2 separate regions of the Homo sapiens genome follow, and region 1 is linked to region 2. Evidence: fine-mapped expression QTL. Tissue or cell type: lymphoblastoid cells. Region 2 holds a variant in brackets; the other region holds the start of a gene. All regions are shown on one strand. Distances are between the middles of the regions.

Evidence for each region. PIP is the estimated chance that this variant, and not a neighbour inherited with it, causes the effect.
Region 1: INSL3 starts here. The variant in region 2 is fine-mapped to the expression of INSL3 in lymphoblastoid cells (CAP, PIP 0.95).

What each region holds. Positions count from the first base shown.
Region 1 is chr19:17,818,422-17,823,975 of GRCh38, reverse strand. It overlaps INSL3 (insulin like 3), which reads left to right and starts at 2,457. Exons shown (of 2, transcript NM_005543.4): 1 at 2,457-2,659. The coding sequence starts at 2,470.
Region 2 is chr19:17,441,164-17,446,717 of GRCh38, reverse strand. It overlaps TMEM221 (transmembrane protein 221), which reads left to right. Exons shown (of 3, transcript NM_001190844.2): 2 at 1,434-1,519. Among named protein-coding and RNA genes, the nearest start is that of TMEM221, 4.7 kb to the left of the region's middle. RefSeq lists a silencer at 5,349-5,398. The variant G/AG (reference allele first, on the strand shown) is at 2,739.

The sequences.
Region 1 (5,554 bases), 380 kb before region 2:
CCCCCTAATTTGGTAGAAATAGGGAGGGAGCTGCTCTGGGGTCAAGCAAGACTCGAGTTCCAGCCCAGGTTCTCTCCTGCCTAGGGTCAAGCATCCTTCCCTCTCTCAACCTCAGATTCCCTCCTTGGAAAAACAAAGCTATAAGACCCCCTAGGCATGAAGCGGGGGCCAAGCATCCACTGAACAAATAAATCCTGCTCTATTCTGGGTCCACCAGCCCCTGCTCACCCAGAGGGGACAACCGTGTTGGGGAGACAGAGCTTCGGATGGGACACCCCCAGCCCTGCGTGTCAGGCGCCTTGAGAAGACCTGGGCTCTGCTCAGCCTCCTGTGACCTTGGGCAAGTTTGGGGTCCTTTCTCTGTGCCTCAGTTTTCTTTTTTTCTTTTCTTTTCTTTCTTTTTGTCTGGTGAGGGGACGGAGTCTCTGTCCCCAGGCTGGTGTGCAGCGGCACCATCTCGGCTCACTGCAATCTCCACCTCCTGGGTTCAAGTGATTCTCCTGCCTCAGCCTCCCGAGTAGCTGGGATTATAGGCATGCACCACCACATCTGGCTAATTTTTGTATTTTTAGTAGAGACAGAGTTTCACCATATTGGGCAGGCTGGTCTCGAACTCTTGACCTCAAGTGATCCACCTGCCCCATCTTCCCAAAGTGCTTGCATTACAGGCATGAGCCACTGCACCTGGCCTGTGTGCCTCAGTTTTCTCATTTGTACAGTAATAGAAACAACAAAATTCTGAACATTTCTGGTCTTGGAAGATGCCCGCTGTCTTCCCCCCTGCCCCCCAGAAAAGGCAGGATTATTACTTTTCAGTTGATCTATTTCATCTCTTTAAACTGGTTAAGACAATAGCGAAGACTTGGCCGTGTGTGGTGCCTCACACCTGTAATCCCAGCATTTTGGAAGGCCGAGTAGGGAGAACCACTTGAGTTCTAGATGAGCCTGGGCAACATAGCAAGACCCCTGCCTCTACAATTAAAAAATTAAAAATGGCCGGGCGCGTTGGTGCACGCCTGTAATCCCAGCACTTTGGGAGGCCGAGGCGGGTGGATCACTTGAGGTCAGGAGTTTGAGATCAGCCTGGCCAACATGGTGAAACCCCGTCTCTGCTAAAAAATACAAAAATTAGCCAGGCTTGGTGGTGGGCACCTGTAATCCCAGCTACTCAGGAGGCTGAGGCAGGAGAATCGCTTGAACCCAGGAAGCAAAGGTTGCAGTGAGTCGAGATCGCACCACTGTACTCCAGCCTGGGTGACAGAGTAAGACTCTGTCTAAAAAGATAAAAATAAAAATTAAAAAATTAAAAATTAGCTGGGCATTGTATTGCAGGCCTGTAGTCCCAGCTACTCAGGAGGCAGAGGCTGAAGGATCGCTTGAGCCCAGGGGAATGAGGTTACAGTGAGCTATGATCCTGCCATTACAGGCCAACCCAGAGAGATCCTATGTCAAAAATGAATAAATACCCTGGTGTGGTCGCTCTCGCCTGTGATCCCAGGACTTTGGGAGGCTGAGGCGGGAAGATGACTTGAGTCCAGGAGTTTGAGACCAGCCTGGGCAACATGGCAAAACCCCATCTCTACAAAAAAAATACAAAAAATTAGCCGGGTGTGGTGGCGTGGGCCTGTAGTCCCAGCTACTCAGGAGGCTGAGGTGGGAGAATTGCTTGAGTCAGGGATAGGGAGGTGGCAGTGAGCCCATATCGTGCCACTGCACTCCAGCCAGGGTAACAGAGCAAGAACTCATCTCAAAAATAAAAAATAAAAATAGGTGGCTGGGCGTGGTGGCTTACACCTGTAATCCCAGCTACTTGGGAGGCTGAGGTGGGAGAATCACTTGAACCCAGGAGGTGGAGGTTGCAGTGAGCCGAGATCGCATCACTGCACTCCAGCCTGGAAGACAGAGCAAGACTTTGTCTCAATAATAATAATAAAAATAATAATAGTCCAGGCACAGCTCATGCCTGTAATCCCAGCATTTTGGGAGGCCGAGGCAGATGGATCGCTTGAGGTCAGGAGTTGGAGACCAGCCTGGCCAACATGGCGAACCCCAGTCTCTACTAAAAATAAAAAATAAAAAAAAAAAAATTAGCCAGGCATAGTGGTGCGCACCTGTAATCCCAGCTACTCAGGAGGCTGAGGCAGGAGAATCGCTTGAACCCGGGTGTCAGAAGTTGCAGTGAGCCGAGATCAAGTCACTGCACTCCAACCTGGGTGACAGAGTGAGACTCCATCTCAAAAAAAAAGAAGAAAAAAATAAAAAAGAAAGACTCGTTGCCCAGTGCTCCCTCTGGGAGAAGTACATCCAAGGCCCTGGCCCTGGGAGAAAGGCTCTGGCACTAACCCCACCCTTGACCTTTTTCCTGGGCGGTCCTGAAGAATGTTCTGTCCCTTCTCCAAGGCCCCCAGCTGGGACGGCCCAGGCGCCTATAAAGGGGGTCCCCGCTTGGCCCCGGCGCCACCCACCACCATGGACCCCCGTCTGCCCGCCTGGGCGCTGGTGCTGCTGGGCCCTGCCCTGGTGTTCGCGTTGGGCCCCGCGCCCACCCCAGAGATGCGTGAGAAGTTGTGCGGCCACCACTTCGTACGCGCGCTAGTGCGCGTGTGCGGGGGCCCCCGCTGGTCCACCGAAGCCAGGAGGCCTGCGACCGGAGGCGACCGTGAGTGGGGACGGGCAGGGACAGCGCTCTGGGAAGCCGAGGTGGGGCAGGTGCACGTAGGCGCAGATGCACACGTGCAGGGAGGTGGGCAGGTTTGCATGCATGTGCCCAGGGCTCACCTGCCGGCTGCGTGCACAGATCGTGGGTCCGCACTGGAGTGTGTGTGAACGCGCGTGTGAAAGTCCCCAGAGCCGTTAGCCAGGCGTGGTGGCTCACGCCTGCAATCCCAGCACTTTGGGAGGCTGAGGCGGGTGGATCCCCAGAGGTCAGGAGTTCGAGACCAGCCTGGCCAAAATGGTGAAACCCCATCTCTACTAAAAATAATTTTTAAAAAAATTAGCCGGGGATAATGATGCACATCTGTAATCCCAGCTACTTGGGAGGCCAAGGCAGGAGAATCGCTTGAACCCGGAAGGCAGAGGTTGCAGTGGGCCGATATCATGCCATTGCACTCCAGCCTGGGCGACAGAGTGAAACTCCGTCTCAAAAAAAAAAAAAAAAGAAAGTCCTCAGAGCATGAGTCCCCCTGAGGGGCCAGAAACAGAGTGAGGCAGGAGAGGTAGGCTCTTGCAAGTACATGGTGAGATCCTGTCTTAAAATTTCAATATTTTGATCTTCATGAATTTTTGCCTTAATTTTGCTTTGTTTGTTTGTTTTTTGAGACAGGGTCTCACTCTGACGCCCAGGCTGGAGTGCAGTGGTGAGATCTCGGCTCACTGCAGGCTCAACCTCCTGGGCTCAAACCATCCTCCTGCCTCAGCCTCTGGAGTGGCTGGGATACAGGTGCTGCCACCACACCCAGCTAATTTTTTTTTCTTTTTCGTAGAGAGGGAGTCTCACTCTGTTTCCCAGGCTGGTCTCAAACTCCTGAGCTCAAGTAATCCTCCCACCTTGACCTTCCAAAGTGTTGGGATTAGCGATGTGAGTCACTGTGTCCAGCTTTAAAAGTATTTAAAAGTATTGCTTTTGAAAAGTATTGCTTTTCACAATTATGTTACTTTATTTTATTATTTTATTTTTATTTATTTATTTTGAGACATAGCCTCGCTCTGTCACCCAAACCAGAGTGCTGTGACGTGATCTCGTCTCACTGCAACCTCTGCCTCCCGGGTTCCAGCAATTTTCCTGCCTCAGCCTCCAGAGTAGCTGGGACTGCGGGCACGCACCACCACACCTGGCTAATTTTTGTATTTTGTTTGTTTGTTTGAGATGGAGTCTCGCTCTGTCACCCGGGCTGAAGTGCAGTGGCACGATCTCAGCTCACTGCAACCTCCGCCTCCTGAGTTCAAGCAATTCTCCTGCCTCAGCCTTCCAAGTAGCTGGGATTACAGGCCACTCCCCAGGTCACCCACTACCATGCACAGCTGATTTTTTTTTTTTTTTGTATTTTTAGTAGAGACAGGTGAACAGGTGAAACAACAGGTTTCACCATGTTGGCCAGTCTGGTCTTGTTTTGTTTTGTTTTGTTTTGTTTTGACATTGAGTCTCGCTCTGTCCCCCAGGCTGGAGTGCAGTGGTGTGATCTCGGCTCACTGCAAGCTCCGTCTCCCGGCTTCACGCCATTCTCCTGCCTCAGCCTCCTGAGTAGCTGGGACTGCAGGCGCCTGCCACCAAGCCCAGCTAAATTTTTTGTATTTTTAGTAGAGATGGGGTTTCACCATGTTAGCAAGGATGGTCTCAATCTCCTGATCTCGTGATCCACCTGCCTCGGCCTCCCAAAGGGCTGGGATTACAGGCATGAGCCACTGTGCCCGGGCCAGGCTGGTCTTGAACTCCTGACCTCAGGTGATCTGCCCGCCTCAGCCTCCCAAAGTGTTGGGATTACAAGCGTGAGCCGCTGTGCCTGGCCTTTTTACAAATATTTTAAATTTTATTTTAAAAGTATTGCATTAAAATACTTACCTTGCTGGATGTGGTGGCTCATGCCTGTAATCCCTGCTACTCAGGAGGCTAGGAGGGAAGATCACTTGAGGCCAGGAGTTTGAGACCAACCTGGGCAATATGAGACTCAGCCTGAGACAGAGACCCTTGTCTCAAAAAAGGGAAAAATATTAATATTATTATTATTATATATATATATTTTGAGACAGGGTCTCACTCTATCACCCAGGCTGGAGTGCAGTGGCGTGATCTCGGCTCATTGCAACCTCTGCCTCCCAGACTCAAGCAATCTGCCCACCTCAGCCTCCTGAGTAGCTGTGACTAGCTACTCTCAGGCTGGTGAGACCAGCCTGGCCAACGTGGCGAAACCTCGTCTCTACTAAAAATACAAAAATTAGCCGGGCGTTGTGGCGCACACCTGTAGTCTCAGCTACTCAGGAGGCTGAGGCAGGAGAATCACTTGAACCCGGGAGGTGGAGGTTGCAGTGAGCCAAGATCACGCCACTGCACTCCAGCTTGGCAACAGAGCGAGACTCCATCTCAAAAAAAAAAAGCTGATGCTGACATTTGGGGATGTATATGGTAGTGGGGCTGTCCTGTATATTGTAGGGTGTTAGATAACATCTCTGTCTTCTGCCCCCTAATGCCATGAATAGCCTCACACCCCATCCAAGTTGTGACATCTAAAACTGTCCCCAGACAAGTATCCCCTGGAAACAAAATCACCCTGGTTTGAGAACCACTGGTGTCAATTGTAAACTGCAGATTGGGTAGAGGGTAAACAACCCTCTAAATTTTCATAAGTCCTTTTTTTTTTCTTTTGAGACAGTCTTGCTCTGTCACTCAGGCTGGAGTGCAGTGGCACGATCTCGGGTCACTGCAGCCTTGCCTTCCCAGGCTCAAGCGATCCTCCCACCTCAGCCTCCCAAGTAGCTGGGACTACAGGCATGCAGAATTATGCCCAGCTAATTTTTGTATTTTCTGCAGAGATGAGGTTTTGCTGTATTGCCAAGG
Region 2 (5,554 bases):
ATGGTAATGAGTGCTGAGAAGGAAAGGAAACAGAGAGATGGGATAGAGAGGAGATAGGACTTTGGGATTTCTTCTGCTAAGGAGGGTTGTGAGTAAGGAGGAAGGTGATCTGATTTAGGTTTTGAATGACCACCTCTAGCCACTGTGCTGAAAAGGGGACAGGAGGGAAGGCGACAGGAAGATGGGGAAGGCGTCCACTTTCATTATACTGGTGGGAGCTGAGTGAGGATGGAAGCTCTTATAGCCTCCACTTCCTCCTCAATCAGTCTCACCTCTTGGGGTCGCGGTTTGTATCATCAATAACAGCATGTGAAACTCAGTTTCCTCATCTCTCAAAGAAGCTTGTAGTCTGTAAAATAATGGAAGCCAGGTGTGTAGCAAGTATCTGCACATAGTAGCTGCATCCTGAGTGTTGAGTGTTTGAGTGGACTCATGCATATAGATGGGTTATAGGGGAAAGAGAATGGATGGTGGATGGATCGAAGTAAGGAAGGATGAATGGATGGATGGATAGATGGATGGATGGATGGATGAGGGGTGGATGGATAGTGAATGGAAGATGGATGACCAGTGGATGGGTGGGTGAGGGATGGATAGATAGGATAGCAGAGGGTGTTTAAATGAATGGATGGATGGATGAATAGCACATGGTTAAATGGATGGAAGGCTGTATATGAGTGCTGGTCAAATAATCAATGAATATGAATGGTAAATGGATGGTGGACACTGACTTGGAAAAATGGATGTGTGGATGGATGGAGCATAGATAAATGGATAGATATCAGATAGTGGATGGTGGATATCTAAATGATTGTATGGATGGATGAATGGGTGGGGCCGATGGATGGATAAGTGGATGGATGAATGAATTGATAAGTGGATGGATGAATGAATGAGTGGATGGATGACTGGTTTGATGGATGGATAAGTGAATGGATGGATGGATAAGTGGATGGATGGATGAGTGGAAGTATGGATGGATGGATGGGTGGATGGATAAGTGGACAGATGGATGAATGGGTGGATGAATGGATGAATGGATAAATGGATGGATGGATGGATGGGTAAGTGGGTGGATGGATGAATGGGCATATGGATGGATGGGTGGATGGATGGATGAGTGGACAAATGGGTGAATGGGTGGATAAATGGATGAATGGATGAATGGATAAATGGGTGGATAGATGGATGGATGGGCTGATGGATACATGAGCTGATGGATGAATTGATGGATAGATGGAGAGTGGATAAGTAAATGGATGTAAATGGGTGGGCAAGTAGATGGATGATGGTTAGGTACTCACATAGATTTTGGGTCCCTGAAAGCTGGGTCCTTGTCTCATTTAAGCGGCTCTCCCTCCCTGTCCTCACTGACCTCCCCCCACCAGCTCCACTTCCTGAACCCTTTATCTTCCTGCTCCCCTTCATTCCAGGTCTGACTGGTTTCTCTACGACTGCCGCCTCCTCAGACATGTGGCCCTTGGCCTTTTCTGCTGTGGGATCTCCGTCTATTTAGCAGGTGTGTGCTGGAATAGAACGTGGGGCATGGGACCCTGGGCTGGGTAGAGAGCAGCAATGGTCCCCTAACTGGGATCAACTCTGCAGACAGCCTCCTTGAGTTCAACTCCAGGCTCTGACACTTCTTTGCTTTGGTGCCTTGGGCAAAGTCTCTCTGTGCCTTGATTTCCTCATCAGTACAATGGGAATAACTGTCATTACCTCACAGAATCACTTGAGGAGATTCTGAGATTTAATCCTCATGAAAGCCCATAGGACCAGGCATAGTAGCTCACATCTGTAATCCCAGCAATATGGGAGACTGAGGTAGGAGGATTGCTTGAGGCCAGGAGTTTGAGACCAGCCTGGGCAACATAACAAAACCCCATCTCTACAAAAAAAAAAAAAACTATATATATATATAATATATATTTATTAAATATATAAATATATATTTATATTTATATGTTTATATTAATATATATTTATATAATATATTTATATTTATATATTATATATCTATATATAGACTTGGTGTGGTGGTACACACCTGTAGTCCCAGCTCCTCGGGAGGCTAAGGTGGGAGGATCACTTGAGCCCGAAGGTTGAGGCTGCAGTGAGCCATGATCACCCCACTGCACTGCACTCCAGCCTGGGTGATACAGCGAGACCCTATCTCATTAAAAAAAAAAAAAAAAAAAAGCCCGTGGATGGCATCTGACTCCAGCAGGGACTCCACAAATGCTAGCTGTCATCAGAACACTTCTGATTCATCAGTTTTATAATTTGTTTGAACAAAAATTTTCATGGCCTGCGTGGTGTCTAAAGATAGCATTTTGGCCAGGCGCAGTGGCTCACGCCTGTAATCCCAGCACTTTGAGGGGCCGAGGCTGGTGGATCACCTGAGGTCAGGAGTTTGATACCAGCCTGGCCAACATGGTGAAACCCCATCTCTACTAAAAATACAAAAAAATTAGCCGGGCATGGTGGTGGGCGCCTATAATATCAGCCACTCAGGAGGCTGAGGCAGGGGAATCACTTGAACCAGGGGGCAGAGGTTGCAGTGAGCCAAGATCGTGCCACTGCACTCCAGCCTGGGCAACAAGGGCAAAACCCCGTCTCAAAAAAAAAAAAAAAAAAAAAAAAAAAGATAGCATTTTACAGGTTGGAATGAGTGAAAGCTGTTTTGGTTACAAATATCAATCTCCAGCTCAAAAATGGCTTGAGAAAAAAAAAAAAAA[G/AG]GATACCCCAGATGCTGGAACGCATCACACTGTCCTTCCTTCCTGATTTGTAATAACTTTTCTTCAATCAACTTTCTTTCATCCATCCGGGCTGGTAAAGGAATGAAATCATTAAGTGTCTTTCAAGAGACTCCTAACGCCTTATATTTGGTTTTAATCTTGAAACAAATGTGTTGATGATGCTGCGGACTCAATGCTGAATCATATATAAGTCCCTGCCAGCCCTGTAAACAATCTGTTTTACAGGAAGAAAAAATATCCTACTGAATGAAAAACAGGATTTGCTATTACTGTTTTTTTTTCATAGTCCCACCACAGAAAATAGAAATTTAAAAAGATATTTAGGCCGGGCGCGGTGGCTCATGCCTATAATCCCAGCACTTTGGGAGGCCAAAGTGGGTGAATCACTTGAGGGTAGGAGTTCAAGACCAGCCTGGCCAATATGCTGAAACCGCCCCCCCACCCCACCATTAAAAATTCAAAAAAATTAGCTGGGCCTGGTGGCAGCTGCCTGTAATCCCAGCTACTCGGGAGACTGAGGTGGGAGAATCACTTGAACCTGAGAGGTGGAGGTTTCAGAGAGCCAAGATCGTGCAACTGCACTCCAGCCTGGGTGACAGACTGAAACTTCATCTCAATAAATAAATAAATAAATAAATAAATAAATGTTTAAAAAGATATATTAAAAAAATTTTTTTTGATGCGGAGTCTCGCTCTGTCGCCCAGGCTGGAGTGCAGTGGTGTGATCTCGGCTCACTGCAAGCTCCGCCTCCTGGGTTCATGCCACTCTTCTTCCTCAGCCTCCTGAGTAGCTGGGACTACAGGTGCCCACCACCACGCCCAGCTAATTTTTTGTATTTTTAGTAGAGACGGGGTTTCACCGTGTTAGCCAGGATGGTCTACGATCTCCTGACCTCAGGTGATCCACCAACCTCGGCCTCCCAAAGTGCTGGGATTACAGGCGTGAGCCACCACGCCCGGCCCTGAGCCACCACGCCAGGCCCTCAAAATATTTTTAATGAGATGTGAGCCTAAGGCTCACTGTGGGAATTTATATATGTGAAGTGCACGGAACACTGCATAACTTTTGTTGTTTGACTTAATGAAATGCTCCAGAAGTAGTTTTTTTTTTAAAAAAAGGAGAAGGGATGGATGACTTGTGCATCTGAAATTGTCAGGGGAAGTTGGCTTCAGGTGTGGCTGGATCCAGGCACTCAAATTAGGTTATCAGAAATGCCTCTCAGCCGGGTGTGGTTGCTCACACCTGTAATCCCAGCACTTTGGGAGGCCGAGGCGAGTGGATCACTTGAGGTGGAGTTTGAGACCAGCCTGGGCAACATGGTGAAACTCCATCTCTACTAAGTATACAAAAATTAGCCAAACATTGTGGCATACCCCTGTAATCCCAGCTACTCCAGAGGCTGAGGCAGGAGAATTGTTTGAACCTGGGAGGCAGAGGTTGCACTGAGCCAAGATCATGCCACTGCACTCCAGCCTGGGCGACAGAGTGAGATGCCATCTAAAAAAAAAAAAAAAAGAAAGAAAAGAAAGAAATTAGCCAGGCATGGTGGTTCATGCCTGTAGACCCAGCTACTCAGGAGGCTGAAGGCAGGAGGATCGCTTGAACCCAGGGGGCGGAGGTTGCAGTGAGCCGAGATTGTGCCATTGCACAGCCTGGGTGACAGAGTGAGACTCTGTCTCAAAAATGATGTTGTTGATAATAATAATAATAATAAAAGAAAAAAGAAACAGAAATGCTTGTCACTTCACCTGTTCATCTGCTGTTCCCTGAATGGGCTTCTCTCTGAGAAAGATGCCTCTATCTGTAAGCACTTTTGACACGATGCCTGGAGCCTTGAGTCTTTGCACAGGCCAACAGAAATATTAAAGACCTAGGGAATAAGATATCCTCATTCTAAAATACAAGAACAATTACAAAAGGAAAAAAAAGGTAACATTATGTCAGCCTCACTAAGCGTAAAATTGAGAATTCATTCACCTCCCATTTAGATTGTTTTTGAGGCTAGGTGACCTCATTCAGCAAGAATTCCCAAGCACATCCAACCAATCATCCATTCATCGCTAGCTAGAACTAAAAGAATAATTACAAAATCCCTTTCAAAATGTTTCCAGCCAAAAAAAAAAAAAAAGTCCTTGGCCTTGCTTTCACATGTGGGACATCATGCAGTGTGATATCTTCCAAAGCAATAGTACAGAGCCAGAGAACGCGTATAAACAGCCTGGAAAGTGCCAAAAAAAAAAGTCCCCCATGTGTTCTGGGCCCCTCTCCTACCAATACCCTAGACGCTGCAGGAAAATCTATCTGTCCCAGTAGCCCAGGCTAAAGTCTCAGGGCTGACTCTGATAGGCTGAGCTTGGGCCATGTAATATTCCTCCACCAATCACTAACATCAGGGGAAGCAATTAATGCTCTGATTGGCTGAGCTTGGTCCAATGAGGACATCATTGATGCCAAAGTGGCTTAGTGATCCCAAATCCACTCTGCAGTGTAGAGATAGGGACCAAACCAGGGATTCTCCACTGAGACTGATTCTGGCCTCAGAGGAACTTTTGTCACTGCCTGGAGACATTTTTGGTGGTCGCCACAGAGTTGAGGGTGGGATGCTACTGACATCTAGTGGGTAAAAGCTGCTAAACGTCCTACGATGCACCACCACTAAGAATGGTGCCAACTGTATGCTGGAGAGGCTGATGGAGGGCTAGCTAGCTCAGGTCCTCAAAGTCCCTTCTTTTTTTTTTTTTTTTTTCTCTGAGATGGAGTCTTGCTCTGTTGCCCAGGCTGAAGTGCAGTAGAG